Homo sapiens: one gene and its partners. The gene in region 6 interacts genetically with the main gene of each other region. Each region holds a gene or a part of one and is shown on either strand. Other genes may lie near its edges. The genes, in order: GFI1B, MED23, SCYL1, LEO1, COPE, SLC35A1 and SAP18.

Region 1 (3,494 bases), on a different chromosome or scaffold from region 6:
AGAGATCCAAGTTATGTGCTTTGAAGGCAGAGGAAGGGGCCAAGATCAGAGGCACAGACGGCCTTGGGAAGGTGAGAGACAGGAAAACAGACTCTCCTGGGAGCCTGCTGCAGGAATGCAGTCCTGCTAACACCTTGATGTTAGCCCCATGAGACTCATTTTGAGTTTCTGGCCTCTAGAATTTAAGAGAATAAATGTGTGTTGTTTTAAGCCACTAAGTTTGTGGTCATTTGTCACAGCAGCCACAGGAAACGGATACCGCCCCAGCTGCACTAGCCTTGCCCACCCCTGTGGTCTTGTCGCACGGGCCCCTTCTGCTTGCTCCTGGCTCGTCAGCGGGTCTGTGCACGTGGGGGCTGAGTACACTTCTCCACAACTTGCCTATGAGCACCTCCATGGCTTTCTCTGCTCCTCAAGCCTCCCCGCATCACTCCCCAAAGCCTCGTGCAGTACCCTGGACCTCATAGGCACTTAATAAATGCTGGTCACATGGCAGCAAATCTGTATCTTTAATTTTATTGACAGCAGTTGAGAGAACAGGCTTTTGACAGCAATAACTGCCAGTTTCTCCAGCCTCACGGCCTGGTTGTGGAGCTAGAATCCCCAGAGGCCAGCTGAGTGCTGGTCGGAAGTCGGAGTCAGCCAGCACATCTGGCCGAAGCAGAGGGGGTGCCAGGCTTCTGACTGGGGTGGGAGGCAGCTCCGACTCTGCCTGTTATAGCCAGAAAGAGGCCGGCTAAAATCCAAGGTGACCAGGTCCCAGCTCAGTGGGCAGCAGGCAGGTGGAGGTTCTGTCTGTGGGTCCCAGCTCTGGTCTACTCTTGGCATCCCTGTCTCCCTGGGGGTATTCTAGCTTTCTGTGCTCTGCTAGAGGAAGGCACTTGAGCACACCTGGAAACAACTTCTGCTGAGAAAGACCCAGCCAGGCTCCCACACTTGGCAGCAGGAGAAATGTTGATCCAGACAGGGTAAGTGACTTGCCCAAGGTCACACAGCAATTTCATGAGTCTCAAAACAAGCTGGTAGACTCCTGTCCAGTCCCACCTCCAGGAGACTGGAGATTTGGGCATGTGAGGCTGGCCTCCAGGTGACAGGACCGCAGGGCAGGCTGGCCAGGAGCTGGGAGCCGGCGCAGCCTCACTTGAGATTGTGCTGGCTCTCGCGGTGCCGCCGCAGGTCCACCTTGCGCTGGAAGCCTTTGGTGCACAGCTCACAGCTGAAGGGCTTGAAGCCTGTGTGCTTGCGGCTGTGGGTGATGAGGTTGGAGCTCTGGCTGAAGGCCTTTCCGCACACCTGGCACTTGTGCGGCTTCTCACCTGCAGGGAGGGCAGCGCAGCACAGCAAGGGCGGGGTCAGGGCCTCCTCACCAGGCCTGCTGCTCCCCTGCCCTGCCCCCGGGTTCATTTTCCAATACCTTCCTGTGTTTTCTCTCATGGCCAACTCACATTCACTTTAGAAAATAATTAGAAAAGAGAGAGAAGCAAAGATACAACTTGGACCCTCCTCCACCCCTACTGGATTATAGGGTGGTTAGGGGCAGCTGCCGAGTCATCTTGTTTATCAATACATCTCCAAGCCTGGTATACCTGGCACAAAAGAGGCACTCAGCTAATAGCAAGGAGGCAATGAATAAGCAAGTGAATGAATGAGTGAAGGAATGAATAAGCAAATGAATGAGTGAACAAATGAATGAGCAAATGAGTGAGCGAATGTGTGAATAAATGAGCAAATGAGTGAATGAGTGAACAAATGAATCAACAAATGAATGAATGAGTGAACAAATGAATGAGCAAATGAGTGAACAAATGAATGAATGAGTGAACAAATGAATGAGCAAATGAGTGAACAAATGAATGAATGACTGAACAAATGAATGAGCAAATGAATGAGTGAACAAATGAATGAGCAAATGAATGAATGAGTGAACAAATGAATGAGCAAATGAGTGAGCGAATGTGTGAATAAATGAGCAAATGAGTGAACAAATGAATGAGCAAGTGAGTGAGTGAATGAGTGAACAAATGAATGAGCAGTTCGCCTGCTAGTCTCATGTCTGCCATGAGATCAACAGTGTTGAGATTTTGCTGTTTCCTCCCTGTATTTTTTTCCATGCATTAAGTGCACTTAAGTAGCACAGGTGCCCAGCCCTCCATCAGCAGTGGCCTTTGACTTTGTAACTAGACCCCGCCCCCAGCCTCACGCTGGGGGCCTCTGATGCATCTCTCAGGGAAAGGTGGGGGTGCTCTGCCCAGGGGGCACAGGCAGGTGAGACTCACTCACCTGTGTGGATGTAGGTGTGCTTCTTCATGTCGGACTTCTGGTGGAAACGCTTGCCGCAGAACTGGCAGGGGTAGGGCCGCGTGTCTGAGTGGATGAGCAGGTGGGTGGACAGCGTGGACGAGCGCTTGAAGGCCTTGCCGCACATGCGGCACTCGAAGCTGCGCTCCTGCCGGAGGAAATGAGGCCCCGGGGGGTCAGGTGCAGGCTCAGGACTGGACCCGGCCGGGATCCCCTGCGGAACAGGACACTCCATTGGGGCGGCCTGGAGGAGCAGGACCGGGGGACCCCTCATCTCTGCCTCTGAGGTGAAACTGGGGCTTGGAGTCTCATTGGTCTCCTGTGGGATTTTTCCTTGTAATCTTCACGGTATCCCGCTCAAAATAAACCTCAATAAATGTTCGTTGATTGACTGATGGACTGACTGATCTCAGAGGTTCTTTAGGGGTTCACATTTCATGACCATTAACCTAGAGTGAGTTCCTTGAGGCAGGGATGGTTGTGGTCTGCACGGTGGTTTAGTTAAGAGTCTGAAGTTTGTTAAGGGCAGGTGTTGGAGACCCAGACCCAGGGAGGTGGGTACTAGGGGACCCCTCCCAATCTGTGTCACCCCCAGGGGCAGGGGGAGGGACCCAGCCACAGCCCCCAGGCTCCCTGGGGAAGCACAGAGAAGGAGTGGGGCTGGGAGTCCTGCGCTGGGCCAGGTGCCCACCTGGGAGTGGACGTGCGTGTGCTGCTCCAGGCTCACAGCGTGGCCGAAGGTTTTGCCGCAGATGTCACAGGCGAAGGGCCGGGTCCCACTATGGGAGCGTCGCACATGCACTTCGAGCCCGTGAGGGGTGGAGAAGACCTGGGAGCAGGGGCAGCATGTGAGGCCACTGGGGGCTGCGGTGACAGGGACAGGCCTGGGGTCCCATGGTCTCTTCCATGCCCAGCTCTGGCCAAGGCTGGGTACACAGAGTAAGGGGCACTGGATTGCCAGTTCTGCTGCTTGCTTGCTGTGTGTCCCAGGGAGGTCCGTTTGCCTCTCTGTGGCTCAGTCTCCCTTCTACAAAGTTGGATGTGAGAGAGGGGATCTGGAGGCCCCTCCTTGCCTCATCTAGAGGCTGAATAGCCCAGTGGTTAAGAGCTGGGAGTTGGCCGAAGCTGGGTTTGAATGCTGGTTCTGATATCTACTTGCTGTCTGATCCTGGAAAAGTGACTTAACCTCTCTGAAC
Region 2 (3,500 bases), about 44 Mb from region 6:
AAAAAAATTAATGTTTGTAGTAAATAATAAATGATAAAATATATTTTTCTTTATTGAAAAGGTATATTTTAGTGAAAATATACTTGGATGTTTATTTCTTCATTTTGATTTTATATTTTCAGTTATTAGCACTCTATACTTAATGTCTATAACCATACCACTATTTTACTAGGTAAGAAATTCTACATAAATGAGCATGACTTATTTTCCTACACAAAGGAATTTATTTTCTGAAGCAAAAGAATGACTCATTAGAAAATAATTTTCATATTAATGTCTTATAACTATTAAAAGAAATAGGCTCATGAAACCTAGGTAAACCTTGGTTGCATCTGTGGCTATTATATGTCATATTTATAAGAACCCACCTGAAAGACCAACCATTTATACCTGTGGTTAATCAAATGGTTGCTTTTAATACATTTCAATCATGTCAAACTCATTTGTATTTGGTTTGCATTTGCCTCTTAATCTCTCTAAGCGTAGACAAATCACTTCTTGGCAGCTCATAATCAGATAAATTGACAATCAGATGAGATAGTCCAATTGTTATTGCTTTAACTGTGTGCACCGATGGCTGGCAAATCTCCTGGTCCCTTTCCAAACTGTGACTGGAGATTCAATGAGTTTCCCAACCCAGCTGCCCATGCTCTCCATGTTACTTGTGTGGAGCTCATGGCCTTGGCAGTTTCAGGCAAAGAAGTTGGGAATGCCCTTCTAAATGTTGTCCTAAAAAGGTATGTATTCTGGTTCATGCAGTAAGATTTGTTGTTTATTTGTAAATAGAATGGTATTCTATTTCAAACTTTTAAGACAAACCTGTTGCCGCAAGGCTGATGCACATTGGATGATGACTGTTTTCTGGTTCCAGATCTTGTCTTTGTGATATAGGAGTTATGGAATGAGCCCTGGACAGGATCCTAAGATCCGGGTTTGTTCCTACTTCTACTCATTAATAGCAGTTTGACATTTAATATAGGAATAATGTTAACTTGTCACTTAAAACAAGATTCTCTTCATCTTGTTTTCAAGATTTCAAGATTCTTTTAAAAATTAGCATGAAGTATGGGATAATGATTGGGGAGGAAGTATTTTTAAAAAGCCTTCTTGAGTTTTTATGCATATTACATTTTTATTCAATAAAAAATTCCCCATTGTTTTATTGAAATGGATTAGTTGTCGATCCTCTGAATTAGACATATTCTTTAAAAATAAGATCCGTTGTCAGCCATCTAAAATGTTTTTATAAATTCATACTTACATTCTTTTTTGCCGGTTGCAGTCAGCCTTTAGTGCCAAGAGAGAACATTACAGCATGGATGAATGCAATTGGTTTGATCATCACTGCCCTACCAGTGAGTTAATAATTGTGATTTGTACTTAGTGATGAAATACAGCCAGCTGTTCCATGTCAGCAAAAAGAAAAAGATGCATATAGGATGCCCTTGTACGGGACGTCATGCAAATTAATGAAGTATTTTATGTTTTTAAAGTTTTTTCATATTATTACTGCTTTAAAAATCTACAGTGACTAGTTTTTGCTTTTCTGTATTAGATCTAAATATATCTATGTGACTTACGGGTCTCTGCATTTTCTGGTACCACCTTACCTATCCAACTTTAGTTTTTACATAATAGCTTGATCTACTCTTGGCCACTTAACGTGTTGTATATCTACAGCCTTTGTTCCTTCAGATAGTGCTTAAGACATGTTTTAGGTACTTCTGAATGTGAGGGAATAAGACATTTTTCTTATTCCAGAAGCTTCTTCTTTCCATCACCTTCTCTAAAGCCTATTCATTCTTTGCTAGCTTAGAGCCTCCTTTCTCAGTGAATGAAGCCTTCCCTGACTTTTCCAGCTCACATGAAGACTCCTTTCTCTGACCTCCACACATATTTTTTTAAAGTTTATTATTTTTAAATAAGTAATAAAGCTATAGATTTATTGTTTGATAAATTAATTGATTTACTGCATAGTGTATATCAGGTACCTAAATGAGCTGGACAGATACATGTATGGAGCCCCTTAACTCACAGTTACTTCTCCCAGGTTGTTACTGACTTAATTTGACCAGTTACAAAGCCACCCAGCTGTATTGTGCAGAAGCTGGAAAAATAGAAAACTTTAAAGAATGAGAAAACACTATTACTTTAGACTTTGGGGTGGAATGCTGGATAAGTGATATTTTTCACTAGCTTTCCTCCGATTTTAAAGGAGCCATATTGGATTGTTCTTCATGATCGAATTGTGAGTGTCATCAGCAGCCCCAGCTTGACGTCTGAAACAGAGTGGGTTGGCTATCCATTCCGCCTCTTTGATTTCACTGCCTGTCATCAGTCCTACTCTGAGATGAGTTGTAGCTATACGTTAGCTCTTGCACATGCTGTGTGGCACCATTCTAGCATCGGACAACTTTCTCTCATTCCAAAGTAAGTATAATAATTTCTTAAAGAAATTTGACGTAGGCTGGGTGCGGTGGTTCATGCCTGTAATCCCAGCACTTTGGGAGGCCGAGGTGGGCAGATCACAAGGTCAGGCGATTGAGACCATCCTGGCCAACATTGTGAAACCCCATCTCTACTAAAAATACAAAAATTAGCTGGGCATGTGGTGTGTGCCTGTAACCCCAGCTACTCGGGAGGCTAAGGCAGGAGAATCACTTGAACCAGGGAGCTGGAAATTGCAGTGAACCAAGATCGCGCCACTGCACTCCAGCCTGGTGACAGAGTGAGACTCCATCTGAAAAAAAAAAAAAAATTGTATTTCATTTTGTTCTAATCTCATTAACAGATGAGGTATATACTTCATTCATTAGAACAACTTGCGGCTGGGCGCGGTGACTCATGCCTGTAATCCCAGCAATTTGGGAGGCCGAGATGGGTGGATCACAAGGTCAGGAGATTGAGACCATCCTGGCCAACATGGTGAAACCCCGTCTCTACTAAAAATAAAAGAATTAGCCAGGCGTGGTGGTGTGCACCTGTAATCCCAGCTAGTCAGCAGGAGAATCACTTGAACCCAGGAGGCGGAGGTTGCAGTGAGCCAAGATCACGCCACTGCACTCCAGCCCAGGCAACAGTGTGAGACTCCGTCTCAAAAAAATAAATAAATAAAAATAATCAAGTGAAAGTAATAGCCAGTGAGAGATGTGAGATTAATTAGAAATATTATTGTTACCAAATTAAAAGGAACTTTAAAAAATTATATTTTATTGTAATACTTTGTATATACTGTATGAACAAAATTCAAACAATTTAAATAATTTCAAGTCACAGGAGATTTTTATCTTCAAATTTTAGGTTTCTTACTGAAGTACTTCTTCCTATAGTGAAGACCGAATTCCAGTTGCTTTATGTATACCATCTTGTTGGACCATTTTTACAAAGATTTCAGCAAGAGAGAACTCGTTGTATGATAGAGGTAAAATATAATCTGGGTTTCCTGTGACATGATTAAATTCTGAAGTATCTATTTAAGTTTCTTTACCAGTGTTATTGAA
Region 3 (3,500 bases), on a different chromosome or scaffold from region 6:
CATGTTGAAGAAAGGGACCCCATTTCTGTCCCCCTTTACAGCAAAACCTCCAAAGTCTGTCTGCACTCCTGTTTCCCATTTCCTCTGCTCTGCTCTCCTGATGGCACTCCACCTAGACTCACACAAACAGCCCCACACTCTGCCAAACTGGCTCAGGGTGAGGTCACTGATGCCCTCCCCGGTACTAATTTCAACAGCCAGTTCTCCATCCTCACCAAACTTGACCCTCAGCAGTTCTGACACCCCTGAGTTTTCCCTCCCTGAAACTTTGGTCTCTGGTCTTCCAGGACACCACCCCCTCCTGGTTCTCCTCTGACCTGGCTGGCTGCTCCTTTTGCTGAGACTCTAACGTTCACACACCCGGAGCCAATCTAGAGGGCTCTTTTCTATCTAACACTCTTGCCCTAGGTGATCTCAGCCATTTCATGGCTTTCAATGCCATCTTGTGAGCTGACAACCCCCAGGCACATACCCCTAGCCCAGACTTCCCTAAATTTCACACATGCATAACCAGTGGCCAACTCGACATCTCCATCCAGCTGCCTAACAGAAACAGCCAAGATGGGGCCCAACATGCTTGTGTCATCTCAGTAAATAGCAACTCCTAACCTTCCAGTTGCTCAGGCCACAAGCCTCAGAGCCACTCTCGTCTCCGTATCTTTTTTGTTTCTGAGATAGAGTCTCACTCTGTCACCCAGGCTGGAGTGCAGTGGTGTGATCTCTACTCACTGCAACCTCTGCCTCCTGGGTTCAAGCAATTCTCCTGCCTCAGCCTCCTGAGTGGCTAGGATTACAGGCGCCCACCACCATGCCTGGCTAATTTTTTTAATTTTTATTTTATTTTATTTTTTTGAGACGGAGTCTTGCTCTGTTGCCCAGGCTGGAGTGCAGTGGCGCGATATCGGCTCACTGCAAGCTCCATCTCCGAGGTTCACACCATTCTCCTGCCTCAGCCTCCCAAGTAGCTGGGACCACAGGCGCCCACCACCATGCCCGGCTAGATTGTTTTTGTACTTTTAGTAGAGACGGGGTTTCACCATGTTAGCCAGGATGGTCTTGATCTCCTGCCCTTGTGATCCGCCCACCTCAGCCTCCCAAAGTCTGGGATTACAGGTGTGAGCAACCGGGCCCAGCCATTTTTTGTATTTTTAGTAGAGATGGGGTTTTACCATGTTTTACCATGTTGGCCAGGCTGGTCTCAAACTCCCATCGCCTCAGGTGATCCACCCGCCTCGGCCTCCCAAAGTGCTGGGATTACAGGCATGGGCCACCAGGCCCGGCCTAAAATAATTTCTTAAATTTTGAGATGAGGTCTCACTCTGTTGCCCAGGCTGGAATGCAGTGTCACGATCACAGCTCAATGCAGCCTCAACCTCCTGGGCTCAAGCTACCTACCTGCCTCAGCCTCCCGAGTAGCTGGGACTATAGGCGTGCATCACCATACGCGCCTAACTTTTGTATTTTTTTGTAGAGATGGGGTTTGGCCATGATGACCAGGCTGGTCTCCAACTCCTGGGCTCAAGCGATCCTCCCACCTCGGCCTACCAAAGTGCTGGGATCACAGGCGTAAGCCACTGCGCCCAGCCCCTGACCACTGTTTTTAAAACCACAAACTCTTCTCCCCACACTTTCCAACAATGCATATTTTCTTTCTTTTTTTGAAACAGAGTTTCCCTCTTGTTGCCCATGCTGGAGTGCAACGGCATGATCTCGGCTCACTGCAACCTCTGCCTCCCAGGTTCAATTGAGTCTCCTGCCTCAGCCTCCCGAGTAGCTGGGATTACAGGCATGCGCCACCATCCCCAGATGGTTTTGTACTTTTTAGTAGAGACAGGGCTTCGCCATGTTGGTCAGGCTGGTCTCGAACTCCTGACCTCAGGTGATCCGCTTGCCTCAGCCTCCCAAAGTGCAGGGATTATGGGCGTGAGCCACCGTGACCAGCCAACAATACATATTTTCTAATTCTGTTGTATTGTCTGGCAAGCCCACCCTCTGTGCCCTGGAAAGGAAGCTCCATGAGTGCAGGGGGCTGGGCACCTCATGCATGCTGCCTCCCAGCATGGGGCTTGGGCCAGGAACAGGCAGATGCTCGTTGTCTGCTGAATGGAGGACGTGCTCCCCCGCCAGCTGCCGAGCTGCACCCACGGCCTGAACCCACACAGCAAGGACAGTGTCTGCTTGGACCCATGGGCCAAAGCCAAGGCCTCTGTGTCTAGGGTGAGCCCCTCCAAGCCTTGGAAAACCAGGGGTAGCCACTCTGGGCCTGGCCACACCCACCTTGACCGTCTGCTCCCGGATGGCAGGGTTGGTGTCCAGGAAGCCATGTACGACGTGGGGGAAGATCTGGGTGTTGACTGTTGGCTCGTCAAGGTACTGGATGAACTGCTCCATCTGTGGCCCAGGTTGGGATGCGTCAACATGGTCAGCCCTTCCCACTCTATCCCCATAGCCATGGAACCGCTCCTGGCTTAGCTTTTCCACCCAGCAGGCACTGGCCAGCCAGGTCAACCTCCTGAGCCACCACCCAGGTGTTTGGCCTCAGGCCCAGGTGGAGGAGTGAGGAAAGGCCAGGAGGGCGCTAGGAAGGCCTGGCTCATAGTCCGGCTCATCTGGCCACCCTCTCAGAGCCTCTTCTATTTTTTTTTTTTTTTTTTTTCTGAGACAGAGTCTTGCTCTGTCACCGAGGCTGGAGTGCAGTGGCGCAATCTCAGCTCACTGAAACCTCTGCCTCCCAGGTTCAAGCAATTCTCCTGCCTCAGCCTCCTGAGCAGCTGGGATTACAGGCACCCACCACCGCACCTGGCTAATTTTTGTATTTTTAGTAGAGACGGGGTTTCGCCAAGTTGGCCAGGCTGGTCTTAAACTCCTGACCTCAGGTGATCTGCCTGCCTCGGCCCTCCCAAAGTGCTGGGATTACAGGCATGAGCCACTGCGCCCAGCCTGAGCCTCTTCTATAAATGAGGGTATCACCCCTTCCCTGCTCCTCCCCACCTGCCCACAGTGCCACGAGGAGGACTGGTGTGTTTGGTGGTCACAGAGGGAATGGCACTGGGAGCCACTGGTACTTCCTAGATCCCATCCATCTTGTCTGATGCTCCCAGCTGCCCTGGGGTTGCAGGAGAAAGACTGTATCCCCACTCTAGAGGGCCAGAGTGACTGAGCCAGGAGAGGAGGGGGCATTAGAGCGCTGCAGCCTGGGCAAGCTGGCCATTCCCAAAACTGCCAAGGAGCCCTGTATGTGGCCAACTTTCTGAGAGCCTGGCCTCATTGGGTCCCTCAGTTGTGTGTATGTTCAGGGGTGGGGTTTCTGGGGTCCCTGTGCAGCCAGGGCAGGTGCCTCCCCAGCCACCAGGTTGGGGTCTGGGTGGACCACCACAGAGTCTGGTACAGAGGCCTCACCTGCTGCAGGAGGCGGATGCGCATGGCCCGGTCAGTGGATGAGAACATCTTGACCACCACAGGGATGATCTTCTGCTGATACTCCTCAGCGCTCAGGAACT
Region 4 (3,500 bases), on a different chromosome or scaffold from region 6:
GTGAATTTCTGAGCTCCTAGAATCATAATCATAGAGAAAGCTTAGAGCATTTGAGCAGATGGCAGATACTAAATGTACACTAACCCCGAGATGTGTTAAGACAGTAAGAATTACAAGGGTCAGGCGATAAAACTTGAGTCCATGTGAGGCAGAAATTTTTTTTTTTTTTTTTTTTTGAGACGGAGTCTTGCTCTGTCGTCCAGGCTGGAGTGCAGTGGCGCAGTCTTGGCTCACTGCAAGCTCCGCCTCCCGGGTTCACGCCATTCTCCTGCCTCCGCCTTCTCAGTAGCTGGGATTACAGGCGCCCACCTCCAAGCCCGGCTAATTTTTTCATATTTTTTAGTAGAGACAGGGTTTCACCGTGTTAGCCAGGATGGTCTCGATCTCCTGACCTCATAATCCGCCCGCCTGGGCCTCCCAAAGTGCTGGGATTACAGGCGTGAGCCACCACGCCCGGCCGAGGAAGAAATTTTGAAGTGAAACCCCTGTATAAAGCAAGTTCTCTCACAGAGCTAAAAACTCCATAAAAATGAGACCAAAAACTCTGCCTATTGGCACAGAGAGATAAACTTCCCATATATGAATAAGGATAAATAAGTGCCCTATGAAAATGAAAACCCCAGATTTCAATAGGTTTAGAGCCTAACTATCTTACCTGCATGGTGGGGAAACACCAGAGTTGGCAAATGAAAACCACTGTTACTGAAAGTAAAGTCAGTGGGATCTCCAGGAAAACATGGCATACTAAACGCATGCAGTTTATCACTGCTGCCTCCTGGAAACCCACTAAAATGACAATGAAGAGTAAAAACAGGACATACAAGGATAGAAAGAATGAGAATGAAGCTGGCAACAGACAGAAGCCAACAATGTGAAAACTGCCAATGCCAAGACCATGCTTCCCTCTGCCTGTTCCCCCAGTGTCAATCCTAAACACAGCTGCTCCCAGTCCCACGGAGATCGTCTGGATCTCCACTCCTTTAGCTGCAAATGTCTGTGCAGCTGGGTCCTAATGATTCCCCCTTCCAGTTTTTCCCCTTTCCCTATTTATTCCTCACAAATAGCTATAAAGTGTGCTGATTGAATAACTCCATCATATTTATGAATTAAACATGATGTCATACCTGAAATTTGTTTCAGAATAGTCTGGGGAAGCTGGGGTGGGGAATATGTAGATGACAAAAGATTGTTAACTCGACAACTGTTGAAGTGGGTCATGGGCACATGAAAGAGTTCATTATATTGTTTTTAATACATTGGTGTATGTTTGAAATTTTCAGATTGAAAACAAAACAATCTGTCACTATTCCTGTCTTCCATCTCATACAATAGGTTGGCCACATATAAATACACAAATATGCCGGGTGCAGGGCTCACACCTGTAATCCCAGCACTTTGGGAGGCCGAGGCAGGCAGATCACCTGAGGTCAGGAGTTCAAGACCTACCTGGCCAACACAGTGAAACCCCATCTCTGCTAAAAATATACAAAAATTACCCGGGCATGGTGGCATGTGCCTGTAATTCCAGCTACTCGGGAGGCTGAGGCTGGAGAATTGCTTGAACCCGGGAGGCGGGGGTTGCAGTGAGCTGAGATTGCGCCACTGCATTCCAGCCTGGGCGACGACAGAGCAAGACTCCATCTCAAAAAAAAAAAAAAAAAAACCACAAATAGGCCATTATTAATTGAGAAGCCGTTCTAAAAAATGCTTTCTATTATATAAAGTGATTCAAATAGTAATGATGCTATAATAGGACACATTGCTAGGTCTTAACCTATCAGGATGAAGGACACATAATAGTATTTCTGAAGACAGGGGACCTCAGAGAGGTACATAAGCTGTACCTGGTTCCCTGGTTCCTTGTTCTTAAAGAATTAACTACACCATGCTTTAAGACTGGTCAGCGTAGTCTTAAACATCACTCAAGAAAATAAGGGTCCAGGGTTATTTCCTATCACACACCAAGGTTTTAAGACAACAGTTTATGTTAAACACCAACATTTTGTAGTCTGATGCACTGAAATTTTAGGGTAAAATACATATTTATAAATTTTTTTTTGGGGGGGAGACAGGGTCTCGCTGTGCTGCACAGGCTGGAGTGCAATGGCACAATCACAGCTCACTGCAGCCTCAAACTCCTGGGCTCAAGCAATCCTCCCGCCTCAGCCTCCTGGAGTAGCTGTGACTATGGGCATGCGCCATCTCTGCTGGCTAATTTTTTTTTATTTTTAGTAGAGACAAGGTCTTGCTCTGTTGCTCAGGCTGGTCTGAAACTCCTGGCCAGTCTTCTCACCTCGGCCTCCCAAGGTACTGGAATTACAGATATGCGGCACCATGCCCGGCCTTTGAAGTCTGACACCCATACTAGAATCTGGTATCACATGGTCTAAAAATATAATAGATATATTGATACTAGCTGTAGCATCATGACAGAAAGTAAGAAAAAGGAAAAAGACAAAATTAAATAAATTGATAAAAAGTGAATAAGGAACTACTATATTAGTTTATATGTATATGACAGGAAACAATGAAAAGTAGTAGAATTAAAGCCAGAGGCACTAAAACAACCATGAAAAATTGATACTGCTAAGCCTAAATCAATACATCCATGTGTCCCAAAGAAATAATATTAACAGATGGGCTAATAAACAGATGAGTAGATGGGTGGTGGAGGGAGGACAGGAAAAAAAAATAGTGTAAGCAGTATATCTGTTGACTGTGTGATCTTGAACAAATTATTAGCACCTGTTTATCTCAGTTTTCTTATTTGATTTGCATTTCCATTAAGAGGAGTAGTGAAGTCTCACTGAAAAGCTTTTGGATAGAAACCATCTTATATCAAGGTTATTTAGGTAGTTGTTAATATACCACATTGAAGAGATGGTACTATTAAAAATATAAAAATTCAGTGCCTAAAAAATGCCAGACTATCCCTTTCTAACAATTTAATAAGGTACCAAGGCCAGGCGCGGTGGCTCACACCTGTAATCCCAGCTCTTTGGGAGGCCGAGGTGGGTGGATCACCTGAGGTCAGGAGTTCGAGACCAACCTGGCCAACATCGTGAAACCCTGTCTCTACTAAAAATACAAAAATTAGCTGGGCATGGTGGTGCATGCCTGTAGTCTCAGCTACTTGGGAGGCTGAGGCAGGAGAATCACTTGAACCCAGGAGGCAGAGGTTGCAGTGAGCTGAGATCATGCCACTGCCCTCCAGCGTGGGCGACACAGCGATGCTCCTTCTCAAAAAAAAATATATAAATACCCACTAGAAAATAAGAAATTTACAGGAAATCCTTCGGATTTAAGAATTGAAAATGCATAATTCCAGTTTCAGTATCATGCATTCAACCACCTCTTGTTCCCTTGTGCAACTCAATTCTAAAATGTCTACTTGGCCAAGTGCAGTAGCAATCATGCCTGTAATCCCAGCAATTTGGGAGGTCAAGGCGGGAGGATCACTTGAGCTCAGAAGTTCAAGATCAACCTGGGCAACACAGCAA
Region 5 (3,500 bases), on a different chromosome or scaffold from region 6:
AAACAAAGCAGGGACCCAGGCCTGCAGTGTTCAGTGACTGTGAACAGCCAGCGCAGCCAGCATGTGAAGGTGGCTGTGTCACGGAGGCCTGAGACTGCCAGGCCAGGGGGCCTGGGTCACAGCTTCTTGATTTTTTTTTTTTTTTTTTTGAGACGGAGTCTCACTCTGTCGTACTCGATCTCAGCTCACTGCAACCTCCGTCTCCTGGGTTCAAGTGATTCTCCTGTCTCAGCCTCCCAAGTAGCTGGGACTACAGGCGTGCGCCACCACGCCTGGCTAATTTTTATATTTTTAATAAACACGTGGTTTCACCACATTAGCCAGGGTGGTCTTGAACTCCTGACTTCATGATCCACCTGCCTCAGCCTCCCAAAGTGCTGAGATTACAGGCGTGAGCCAACGCGCCCAGCCGATTTTTTTTTTTTTCCTAAAATAATTGGTAGGAGCCAGGCACAGTGGCTCACACCTGTAATCTTTGGGAGGCTGAGGTGGGAGGATCACTTGAAGCCAGGAGTTCAAGACCAGCCTGGGCAACATAGTGAGACCCCCGTCTCTACAAAAAAAAATTAAAAAATAAGACAGTCATGGTGGCATGTGCCTGGAGTCCCAGCTAATTGGGAGGCTGTGGCAGGAGGATCAGTTGAGCCCAGGAGGTCAAGATTACAGTGAGCCGTGATCACGCCATTGCACTCCAGCCTGGACAACATAGCAAGACCTTGTCTCTAAAAAAATAAGAATGGGGGCTGGGCCCGGTGGTTCACGCCTGTAATCCCAGCACTTTGGGAGGCCAAGGCGGGCAGATCACCTGAGGTCAGGAGTTCGAGACCAGCCTCAACATGGAGAAACCCTGTCTCTACTAAAAATACAGAATTAGCCAGGTGTGGTGGTGCATGCCTGTAATCCCAGCTACTTGGGAGGCTGAGGCAGGAGAATTACTTGAACCTGGGAGGCAGAGGTTTCGGTGAGCTGAGGTCACAGCATTACACTCCAGCCTGGGCACCAAGAGCGAAACTCCATCTCAAAAAAAAAAAAAAAAGGCCGGGCGTGGTGGCTCACACCTGTAATCCCAGCATTTTGGGAGGCCAAGGTGGGTGGATCACAAGGTCAGGAGATTGAGACCATCCTGGCTAACACAGTGAAACCCCGTCTCTACTAAAAATACAAAAAAATTAGCCGGGCGTGGTGGCGGGCGCCTGTAGTCTCAGCTACTCGGGAGGCTGAGGCAGGAGAATGGTGTGAACCTGGGAGGTGGAGCTTGCAGTGAGCCGAGATCACGCCACTGCACTCCAGCCTGGGCGACAGAGCGAGACTCCGTCTCGAAAAAAAAAAAAATGGGGAAGGAACCATCTAGGAGGGAACACAATGAGGGACGGGCCCCCAGCTGCAGATGTGACAGTGGTATCAGTCTGGGCATCCTCAGAGGGCCAGTAGGTGGGCAGGGCTGGCTGGGGGCATGTCCTGCTTTATAGAAGCGCATGTCACAACCCCCATAACTGCTGCTGCCCTGCCCCCAGGTGACACGCCCTTCACCTCACCACCAGAGGTGGACAGCTGCCAGGGGATAGACAGTAACCTACCAGGGTCCCTAGCTCAAGGCATGGGCAGTGTGGCCCTGCAGATGAGGGCACACCTGGCTGCTCACGACAGGTGACGCCATGCCACCCTCCACAGTGTACTGCAGTGGAGGTGGCCCATGCTGGGCTGAGGGGTCCCTGGTGGGGCAGGGACTTCCTGTCTGGGGCTCTCCCTGCCAAGCTGAAGACATGGAAATCCTCTGGGGTGGACGGGTGCAGCTGACGCCTCGTCCCTACTGCAGAGGAAGTTCGGTGTGGTCCTGGATGAGATCAAGCCCTCCTCGGCCCCTGAGCTCCAGGCCGTGCGCATGTTTGCTGACTACCTCGCCCACGAGAGTCGGAGGTGAGGCCCCAGAGAATGGGTTGGCCTGAGGCGCGGGGCCATCTTCAAGGCCTGTTGGTTATGAACCTGGGTGGGTGGGGGCATGGCGTGCAGCGCACAGCATCCCTCAGATTAGGCGCCTCTCCCCTCTGCTCCCCTGCTGCTTTGTGCCTCAGTTTCCCTCACCTGCACAGCAGTGGGGGGCTGGTGATGGATCCTGCTTCAAAGGGGAGGGTCAGAGACAGTGCTGTGTGTGCACACGCCCTCATGGACCACAAGGCACTCTCTGAACCTAGAACTGAAAATATCAATTACCGAGCAGCCCTCTGCAACACCCAGAGCCCCAAGACAGCCCAGGGCGCAGCGGGGGCAGGGCCCTCCCATCAGTTTTCTTATTTATTTATTTAGAGATGGAGTCTCACTCTGTCACCAGGCTGGAGTTGCAGTGGTGAGATCTCGGCTCACTGCAACCTCTGCCTCCTGGGTTCAAGTGATTCTTGTGCCTCAGCCTCCTGAGTAGCTACGACTATAGCTGCGTGCCACCACGTCCAGCTAATTTTTGTATTTTAGCAGAGACTGGGTTTCACCGTGTTGCCCAGGGTGGTCTCGAACTCCTGAGCTCAGGCGGTCTGCCCACCTCAGCCTCCCAAATCCTATCAGTTTTCTAGTCCCAGCTAGTTGGGGACTGCAACCTGCCAGTATCTCCCCTGGAGCCCAGTGGGAGGGTGGGTGAGGCCACGCCTGTCCTGCCCCTGAGCCACAGGCCAGCGTTGGTCAAACGCCCATGGGCGGCAGCCAAGGGGAGAGGGGGCTGGGCTGTGGGGACCCAGGAACCTTGCCCCCTCCTGCTGTGGGGTCGGAGTGAGGGTCTGGCATGGGGAGACTGCTGTGATCCTGCTCTTCCTTGGCCCACGGAGGCAGTGTCCCAACTACCGCCTCCCTTCACTCAAAGAAACCTGGGGTTCCTGGGAGCTGACTCCTGTGCAGAGGCAGCATGGTGGGGTGAATGGTGTCCCCCAAAAGGTACGTCCATATCCTATCCCACATGCTTGTGAATATGATATCATTTGGAAAAAGGGTCTTTGCCGATCAGATTAAGAGATAAGGAGATGAAGACATGCTGGATTTAGGGTGGGCCCCAAAGCCAAGGACTTGTGTCCTTTTAAGAGATAAAAGGAGGGCTGGGTGCAGTGGCTCATACTTGTAATCCCAGCACTTTGGGAGGACGAGGTGGGCAGATCACCTGAGGTCAGGAGTTTTCAAGACCAGCCTGGCCAACGTGGTGAAACCCCATTTCTATTAAAAATACAGAATTAACAGGATGTGATGTCTGTGATTCCAGCTACTTGGGAGGCTGAGGCAGGAGAATCGCTTGAACCTGGCAGGCAGAGGTTGCAGTGAGCCAAGATCGCACTAGTGCACTCCAGCCTGGGTGACAGCGGGAGACTGTCTTAAAAAAAAAAAAAAAAAAAGGAAAGAGGCCCACAGAGTTAAGCCCATGTGACAACAGACTGGAGTGACATGTCTGCTAGCCAAGGAGCACCACGAGTGGCCAGCAGCCACCAGAGCTGGGAGAGAGGCCTGGGACGGCCTTGCCCTCCAGC
Region 6 (3,500 bases):
TAGAAAAGTGGTTCGGTAAATGGAAAGGAATAACAGCCTCAATTCTTACTTCCCTCACAGCTGTAATGGGTGTACTTATTCTTGTCGGGTGCTGTGTCATACCATGCATCTGTGGGTTGGTGCAGAGTAAGTGCTCATAGAAATGGCACTTACTAAAACCTCCCTTAACTATCCTCCACCTTATCCAGAGAAGCTTCTTCTTTCGGAAAATTGAGCAGAACTAAGCCAAGGCATGTTAAAGAAGTTTGAAGAGAAAGAGGTGTAAGGAAAATGCAAGAGGAGGGGATTGTTAGATATGAGTTCTAAATTTCTCTTCGAAGAATCAGTATGTCAGTATGTTCAATTCTTTGCCTTCTACTTTTAAATTTAACTTCCTCGTAAAGCAACCTTTTCTGATTACCCTCTCCACCCTGACTCATTCCGATTTCCTGCTCTGCCATAACCATTTTTCCCGCCAAACCACTCATCCCATCACTCTCTTTAAATTAGCCAACTGGAATTAGTTTAGCCTGTGCAGTCTAACCCTAGCCAATAGGGGAACGACAGAGCCATAGAGGCCACGTGCATAAGGAATAAGTCCCCTTTTCCTCCCTTGTCCAGGTGTGCGCTCACCATTGCTCCATCTGTGAGGGCACACCCTTCTATAGAAGGAAAACTGCCTTGCTGAGAAGAAAAAAAGAAAATTTTGTATTCGAGTGCTGTTTTTTTGTGTGTGGCACTGAAACTTTATTTATAACACATATTTTTCATATTCGAACTACTTCAAGTGGATTAGTATAAGCCTTTTCAAGATCTAGAACCAATTTTCAACACTTTCACTCGGTATCTTTCCCAAAATGATAGCCATGCTTGCAGTTGCATTATCAACTGTCTCATCACACACTGCTGAAGCTGAAGCAATCACAATGTCGTGTAACATTTCAATATTTAAATGTAATGTCTGTTTCTACATAAAAGCCTACACACAACACTATTCCTCCCTGCTTCCCTTCACTCACCAACACACATCTTGAAACCTGTATGACTTCTTAACTGCCCCAATGACTCCTATAGGTCCCCATCTCATAAATCTTTCCCCTGGTAATTTACCTATTAGATTTTATTTAATTTTCAGCACCCCATATTATTTTCTCAAATTAAAAAAATGAACAAACTGAAGCTTAAAGAGGTTACAAGTGTGTATGCAGCCACAATCTCAGTCTAGGATTAAAATTAGGTCTATCTCCTCCAATGCCCCTAATTCTTAACCCTCTCTTATACCACATCCTTAGCTAAACAATTCTTGCATGATGTTTTTGATTCAAAGCCCGGTGCTGCCACATATTAACAGTGTAATCTTAAGGAACCTCAGATGCTGCGTCAATAAAACAGGGGTAAAGTACTTACCTTGAAAATGTGGAAGAAGTAAATGAGAAAACACAAAAAACACATAGCACAGTGCCTAGCACTTAACATAGGAAACACTCAAGAAATGTTATTATTATTATATTCATCCAAAACACAAGTCAATAATTGTTTTCTGTAAGGGCCAAACAGTAAATATTTTAGGCTTTGCAAGCCAGTCAGTCTCCATTACACCAAAACCAGGGAGCAAGCTGGATTTGGCCCATGAGACATAGTTTGCCAACTTCTATTCTACAGCAGCGTTCTTCAACCTCAGCAGTACTGACATTTGGGGCTGGATAAATCTTTGTTGTGAGGCTGTCATGGGGATTGCAGGATGTTTAGCAGCATCCTTGGTCTCCACCCACTAGATGCCAGTAGCATCTCTCAAGTTGTGACAACTAAAAAATCTTCTGGGGGGCAAAATCACCCCTAGTTGAGAAACACTGACCCAGAGCAATTAAACATATAAAGATGTAGCTTGAATTTTCTAACAAATACCCTCACCAGGTAGAAAAATAATTTAACACACTATAAGTATTTATACTCACTTAGCTAAAATTCCCACACTTAGCAATAACTTTATAACTTCTGTGATACACACGGCTGTGGTTGAAAAGTAGAGTTCTTTGTCTGATGTCCTTGTGTATCTTAAAGCTATGGTATAGACTGCAGCCATCAGGGTCATCACTGCCAAGCAGTATAACTTGAATAATAAAGTGACATTGTCTGGAAAATACGTGCAACAAAGACATTACTTAGTAGACAATATATGTATATATAAGTTAATAAACTAGTTATAGCCTAAAAATACTTTCCAATTCCAAGCACAAAATATTTTCTAAAACTCATGCTTAAAAATTTTTTTCAAAACAATGTTTGCCAATTACATGAGCGTGCACACACACACACACACACACACACCACAGCTGACTTTAAACATCAGCCAATTAGGCATAAGTTTTGTTCCTAGGGAGTGCCCCAATTGCAAGACTATGTAGCGTACTGATTCTAGTTCAGGATGTTATAAATTACATTATATATATATTGGTGGTGGTGGTGGGTTTTTTTGGAGACAAGGTCTCACTCTGTCCCCCAGGTTGGAATACAGTGGCGCGATCTCAGCTCACTGCAACCTCCACCTCCCAGGTTCAAGCGATTCTCGTGCCTCAGCCTCCCGGGACTACAGGCGTGCACTACCACAGCCAGCTAATTTTTTGCATTTTTAGTAGAGATGGGGTTTCCCCATGTTGGCCAGGCTGGTGTCTAACTCCTGACCTCAAGTGATCCGCCCACCTCCGCCTCCTGAAGTGCTGGAATTACAGGTGTGAGCCACCGTGCCAGACATATATTTTAGGACAGGGTCTCACTCTGTCACCCAGGCTGGAGTGCAGTGGCATGATCTTGACGTGATCTCGGCTCACTGCAAACTCCACCTCCCGGGTTCAAGCAATTCTCCTGCCTTAGCCTCCTGAGCAGCTGGGATTACAGGCACCCGCCACTACACCCAGCTAATTTTTGTATTTTTAGTAGGGAAGAGGTTTCACCATGTTGGCCAGGCTGGTCTCGAACTCCTGACCTCAGGTGATCCACCCACCTCGGCCTCCCAAACTGCTGGGATTACAGGCATTAGCCACCACGCCTGGCCCCAGCACATATTTTAAATATTTTTATGATTACAAACTTGTGGATGCAAAGCATGAAACCAACTGCAGCAATGTATATTCTAGATTTAAAGGCAGCAGAAAGAAAATAATAATTGAGAAATGAGTGGGGCTTAATATAAAACTTTTTCACAATAAGAACTTACAACTAGCCACTCATTTCATTGCATTATACAAAACAATAATTCATAACACAGGAAAAGAATATTAAGAACACACCTCTATAAAACTAGAAATGCAGGAAACATATAAACACTTAATTTAAGAATTGCCTGCAAGTATATCTGAGCAGCAGCCATCTCTCAGGCACCAGAGCCTGTCCAAGACCTTTGGTAAAACCATAAGCAGTGGGTACCAAGTCTCCCTCATACTTCCTTATTCCCAGACCTGCTCGGGTACTGCCATCACCCAAGGATCAAACTATTTCTACTTTCCTCACCCACCTCCCACCTA
Region 7 (3,239 bases), on a different chromosome or scaffold from region 6:
TGATGGACACTTGGGTTGTTTCACCTTTTTTGCCATTGTGAATAATGCTGCTGTGAACATTGGCATACAAATGTGTTTGTGTCGCTGCTTTCAGTTCTTTTGGGTATGTACCTAGGAGGGGATTACTGGGTCATATGTTAACTTTGTTTAATTTTTGAGGAACCACCAAACTTTTTCACAGCAGCTGCACTATTTTATATTCCCCAAAAGATGTATAATTTTAAACTATTTAAGCCCTGTACACTAGAGCTAATCCCTTGAAGATTGGGACCTTACTTGTCTTATTTGGAGGTGCTTGTTAAATTTATGTAGTAGTATGATACCTGTACTTAAGCATCACTCAAGGGTAAGTGTTCTAGGAAGGTTGATTTAGCTTATATGGAAGAACTGTTGAATAATGGCTTGATGAAAATCTCTTCAGAAATTAAAGTGTATGTTTCTTCCAACAAGAGTTCCTATTTGCCAGGTGCTGTGTGTGCTTAGATCCTGAGGGTATAAAGTCAAGACGGTACTGCTCCTCCCTGTAGTAAGTCCTTTTATCAGGGAAAGCGGATGAATAGAGTGATTTTTAGGGTTAAAATGGCAGGGTGAGGTTGTTCCACAGACCTTCCACTCTGAATCAAGAAAAAAAATTACCAAAAAAATCCTGTCCTAAACTATACCGTCCATAAATTGCAACCAAACAAAGAAGGAACAACTTTAAGTTACATCTCAAAATGGTGGCCAAAGAAAAGATTCTGAAAGACTGGATGATTGGTATGGGGGTAACACAAAGGCCTGCCCTCATTCCCAGAAATAGTAATGAGGGAAAATTAGTTAACATATACTGGAAATTCTCAATTTGGAGAAGTAGACTGTGGGGTTAAATAGGCAGTCCCAAGAGAAGTTATGGAAACAGGAGTGGAAGTCCAGAGGAGCCCAGTAGAGGCAGGCTGTGTTCACCAAAGTCAATCAGGGCTCAGCCAGAAAAACAGAATTGGGAGAGATGTGTTAAGAGATTTATTTCTGCTGGGCGTGGTGGCTCACGCCTGTAATCCCAGCACTTTGGGAGGCCGAGGTGGGCGGGTCATGAGGTCAGGAGTTGGAGACCAGCCTGGCCAACATGGTGAAACCCCGTCTCTGCTAAAAATACAAAAATTAGCCAGGCATGGTGGCGGGTGCCTGTAATCCCAACTACTTGGGAGGCTGAGGCAGGAGAATTGCTTGAACCCAGGTGGCAGAGGTTGCAGTGAGCCGAGATCAGCGCCACTGCACTCCAGCCCGGGCGACAGAGCGGGACTCCATCTCAAAAAAAAAAAAAAAAAAAAAAAAAAGCTTTATTGCAAAGAATTTGGTTTACGTGATTGTGGGGGCTGTCTAGGCCCTTAATTGTCAAATCTGTAGGGCAGGTTCTCAGGAAGGAAAGGCTGCTCTTAGGGCCTTTCAACTAATAGAATCAGGCCTCCCCAGATTATATAGGATAGACCTCTGAATTTAAGGTCAATTGGTTGTTGACTTTAGTCACATCTATAAAATATCTCACAGCAATACCTAGGTTAGTGTTTGGTTGAATATCTGGGGACTGTAGCTTCGTCAAGCTGACACAAGTACTGAACCCCACCCTGTCCTCAAGCTTCTGACTAGTGATGAAAAAGCAACACTTGGCACTCCAATTGTTGGTCTGGAAAGACAGTCCTTAGAAGGTGGGAAGCTTGTGTAGGTTTCACACTGTCAGAACTGATAAAAGGTGTGATATAAATCCCCCAAATTAATTAAGAGCAAGACAATATTGAAAATATTTTTAGAAAGGAAAAAATTCTTTCTGGTATATATCATCATAAGTATGTACTGTGTATCAGAATATAGACTGAGCATCGCAAGTCCAAAATCTGAAATGCCACAAAATCTGAAACTTTTGAGAGCTGACGTGACACCGGTGGAAAATTGCACACATAAGTTCTTGACCTCTTTTTTTTTTTTTTTTTTTGAGACAGAGTCTTGCTCTGTCATCCAGGCTGGAGTGCAGTGGCGCGATCTCGGCTCACTGCAACCTCTGCCTCCCAGGTATAAGCGATTCTCCTGCCTCAGCCTCCTGAGTAGCTGGGATTACAGGCGTGCACCAAACTTCCTTTCATGCACACAATTACTTAAAATGATGTATAAAATTGTATTCCAGCTGTGTATAAGGTATGTTTGAAACATAAATGAGTTTCTTATTTAAACTTGGGTCACAACCCCAAGATATCTTACGTATATGCAAAAATTCTAAAATTTGAAAAAACCTAAAACGCTTCTAGTCCCATGTATTTTGGGTAAGGGATACTGAACCTATAATTGATACAGAATAGTTAACATCAAAATATCAGGTTGAAAAAAGGTCACCTCTGAGACAGATAAACCAATGTGACCTCAGGTTTTTTTGTTTTTGAGACAGAGTCTCAGTCTGTCACCCAGGCTGGAGCACAGTGGCACAGTCTTGGCTCACTGCAGCCTCCGCCTCCCAGGTCAAGCGATTCTCTTGTCTCAGCCTCTCGAGTAGCTGGGATTATAGGCTACAGATGTGTGCCACAACGCCTGGCTAATTTTTGGATTTTTAGTAGAAACGGGGTTTCACCATGTTGGCCAGGCTGCTCTCGAACTTGAGCTCCTGGCCTCAGGTGATCCACCCGCCTTGGCCTCCCAAAGTGCTGGGATTACAGGCATGAGCCTCCGCACCTGGCAAAAAAATGTATACTAGGTTATTTCTAAGATGCTTATATGTTAAAATATTTTTTTCAGATTGTTCTCTTATTAGCTCAGGGGACTATATGAAAGTTGGATTCAAGTCAATATTTGCAGGGTAAGAAACTATTGTGACAAGAGCCTGTGCTTCATTGTAAGAAACTTTTGTATATTTCATTGGCTCTAGTACTCTTATCTGTTGTAAAACTTACAATTCTATCTAAGAAAGAAGAAACACATCTGGCTGGGCGCAGTGGCTCACGCTTGTAATCAATCCCAGCACTTTGGGAGGCCAAGATAGGTGGATCACTTGAAGTCAGGAGTTCGAGACCAGCATGGCCAACATGGTGAAACCCTGTCTCTACTAAAAATAGAAAAATTACCTGGGCGTGGTGGTGGGCGTCTGTAATCCCAGCTACTCAGGAGGCTGAGGCAGGAGAATTGCTTGAACCTGGGAGGCGGAGGTTGCAGTGAGCTGAGGTCACGCCACTGCACTCTAGCCTGGGCGACAGAGCGAGACTCTCTCAAAAACAAAACGT

The links.
Region 1: changes in SLC35A1 (region 6) and GFI1B together harm fitness less than expected from each alone (positive genetic interaction), as found in Homo sapiens cells (one large-scale study listed by BioGRID).
Region 2: changes in SLC35A1 (region 6) and MED23 together harm fitness more than expected from each alone (negative genetic interaction), as found in Homo sapiens cells (one large-scale study listed by BioGRID).
Region 3: changes in SLC35A1 (region 6) and SCYL1 together harm fitness more than expected from each alone (negative genetic interaction), as found in Homo sapiens cells (one large-scale study listed by BioGRID).
Region 4: changes in SLC35A1 (region 6) and LEO1 together harm fitness more than expected from each alone (negative genetic interaction), as found in Homo sapiens cells (one large-scale study listed by BioGRID).
Region 5: changes in SLC35A1 (region 6) and COPE together harm fitness more than expected from each alone (negative genetic interaction), as found in Homo sapiens cells (one large-scale study listed by BioGRID).
Region 7: changes in SLC35A1 (region 6) and SAP18 together harm fitness more than expected from each alone (negative genetic interaction), as found in Homo sapiens cells (one large-scale study listed by BioGRID).

The regions. Positions count from the first base shown.
Region 1 is NC_000009.12:132,988,694-132,992,187, reverse strand, and holds the end of GFI1B (zinc finger protein Gfi-1b), read right to left. Parts: intron 3,128-3,494; coding exon 2,990-3,127; intron 2,513-2,989; coding exon of another isoform or gene 2,447-2,512; coding exon 2,281-2,446; intron 1,451-2,280; coding exon of another isoform or gene 1,431-1,450; exon of another isoform or gene 1,349-1,430; intron 1,317-1,348; coding exon 1,138-1,316; 3' UTR 501-1,137; downstream 1-500. UniProt on the Homo sapiens protein: Essential proto-oncogenic transcriptional regulator necessary for development and differentiation of erythroid and megakaryocytic lineages.
Region 2 is NC_000006.12:131,590,243-131,593,742, reverse strand, and holds part of MED23 (mediator of RNA polymerase II transcription subunit 23), read left to right. Parts: intron 1-571; coding exon 572-737; intron 738-1,282; coding exon 1,283-1,355; intron 1,356-2,215; coding exon 2,216-2,430; intron 2,431-3,300; coding exon 3,301-3,421; intron 3,422-3,500. UniProt on the Homo sapiens protein: Required for transcriptional activation subsequent to the assembly of the pre-initiation complex. Component of the Mediator complex, a coactivator involved in the regulated transcription of nearly all RNA polymerase II-dependent genes.
Region 3 is NC_000011.10:65,531,583-65,535,082, reverse strand, and holds part of SCYL1 (N-terminal kinase-like protein), read right to left. Parts: coding exon 3,400-3,500; intron 2,392-3,399; coding exon 2,278-2,391; intron 1-2,277. UniProt on the Homo sapiens protein: Regulates COPI-mediated retrograde protein traffic at the interface between the Golgi apparatus and the endoplasmic reticulum. Involved in the maintenance of the Golgi apparatus morphology.
Region 4 is NC_000015.10:51,954,779-51,958,278, forward strand, and holds part of LEO1 (RNA polymerase-associated protein LEO1), read right to left. Parts: intron 1-3,500. UniProt on the Homo sapiens protein: Component of the PAF1 complex (PAF1C) which has multiple functions during transcription by RNA polymerase II and is implicated in regulation of development and maintenance of embryonic stem cell pluripotency.
Region 5 is NC_000019.10:18,909,388-18,912,887, reverse strand, and holds part of COPE (coatomer subunit epsilon), read left to right. Parts: intron 1-1,816; coding exon 1,817-1,917; intron 1,918-3,500. UniProt on the Homo sapiens protein: The coatomer is a cytosolic protein complex that binds to dilysine motifs and reversibly associates with Golgi non-clathrin-coated vesicles, which further mediate biosynthetic protein transport from the ER, via the Golgi up to the trans Golgi network.
Region 6 is NC_000006.12:87,475,974-87,479,473, reverse strand, and holds part of SLC35A1 (CMP-sialic acid transporter), read right to left. Parts: intron 2,113-3,500; coding exon 1,935-2,112; intron 1-1,934. UniProt on the Homo sapiens protein: Transports CMP-sialic acid from the cytosol into the Golgi apparatus, functioning as an antiporter that exchanges CMP-sialic acid for CMP. Binds both CMP-sialic acid and free CMP, but has higher affinity for free CMP.
Region 7 is NC_000013.11:21,143,119-21,146,357, forward strand, and holds part of SAP18 (histone deacetylase complex subunit SAP18), read left to right. Parts: intron 1-1,973; coding exon of another isoform or gene 1,974-2,166; intron 2,167-3,239. UniProt on the Homo sapiens protein: Component of the SIN3-repressing complex. Enhances the ability of SIN3-HDAC1-mediated transcriptional repression. When tethered to the promoter, it can direct the formation of a repressive complex to core histone proteins.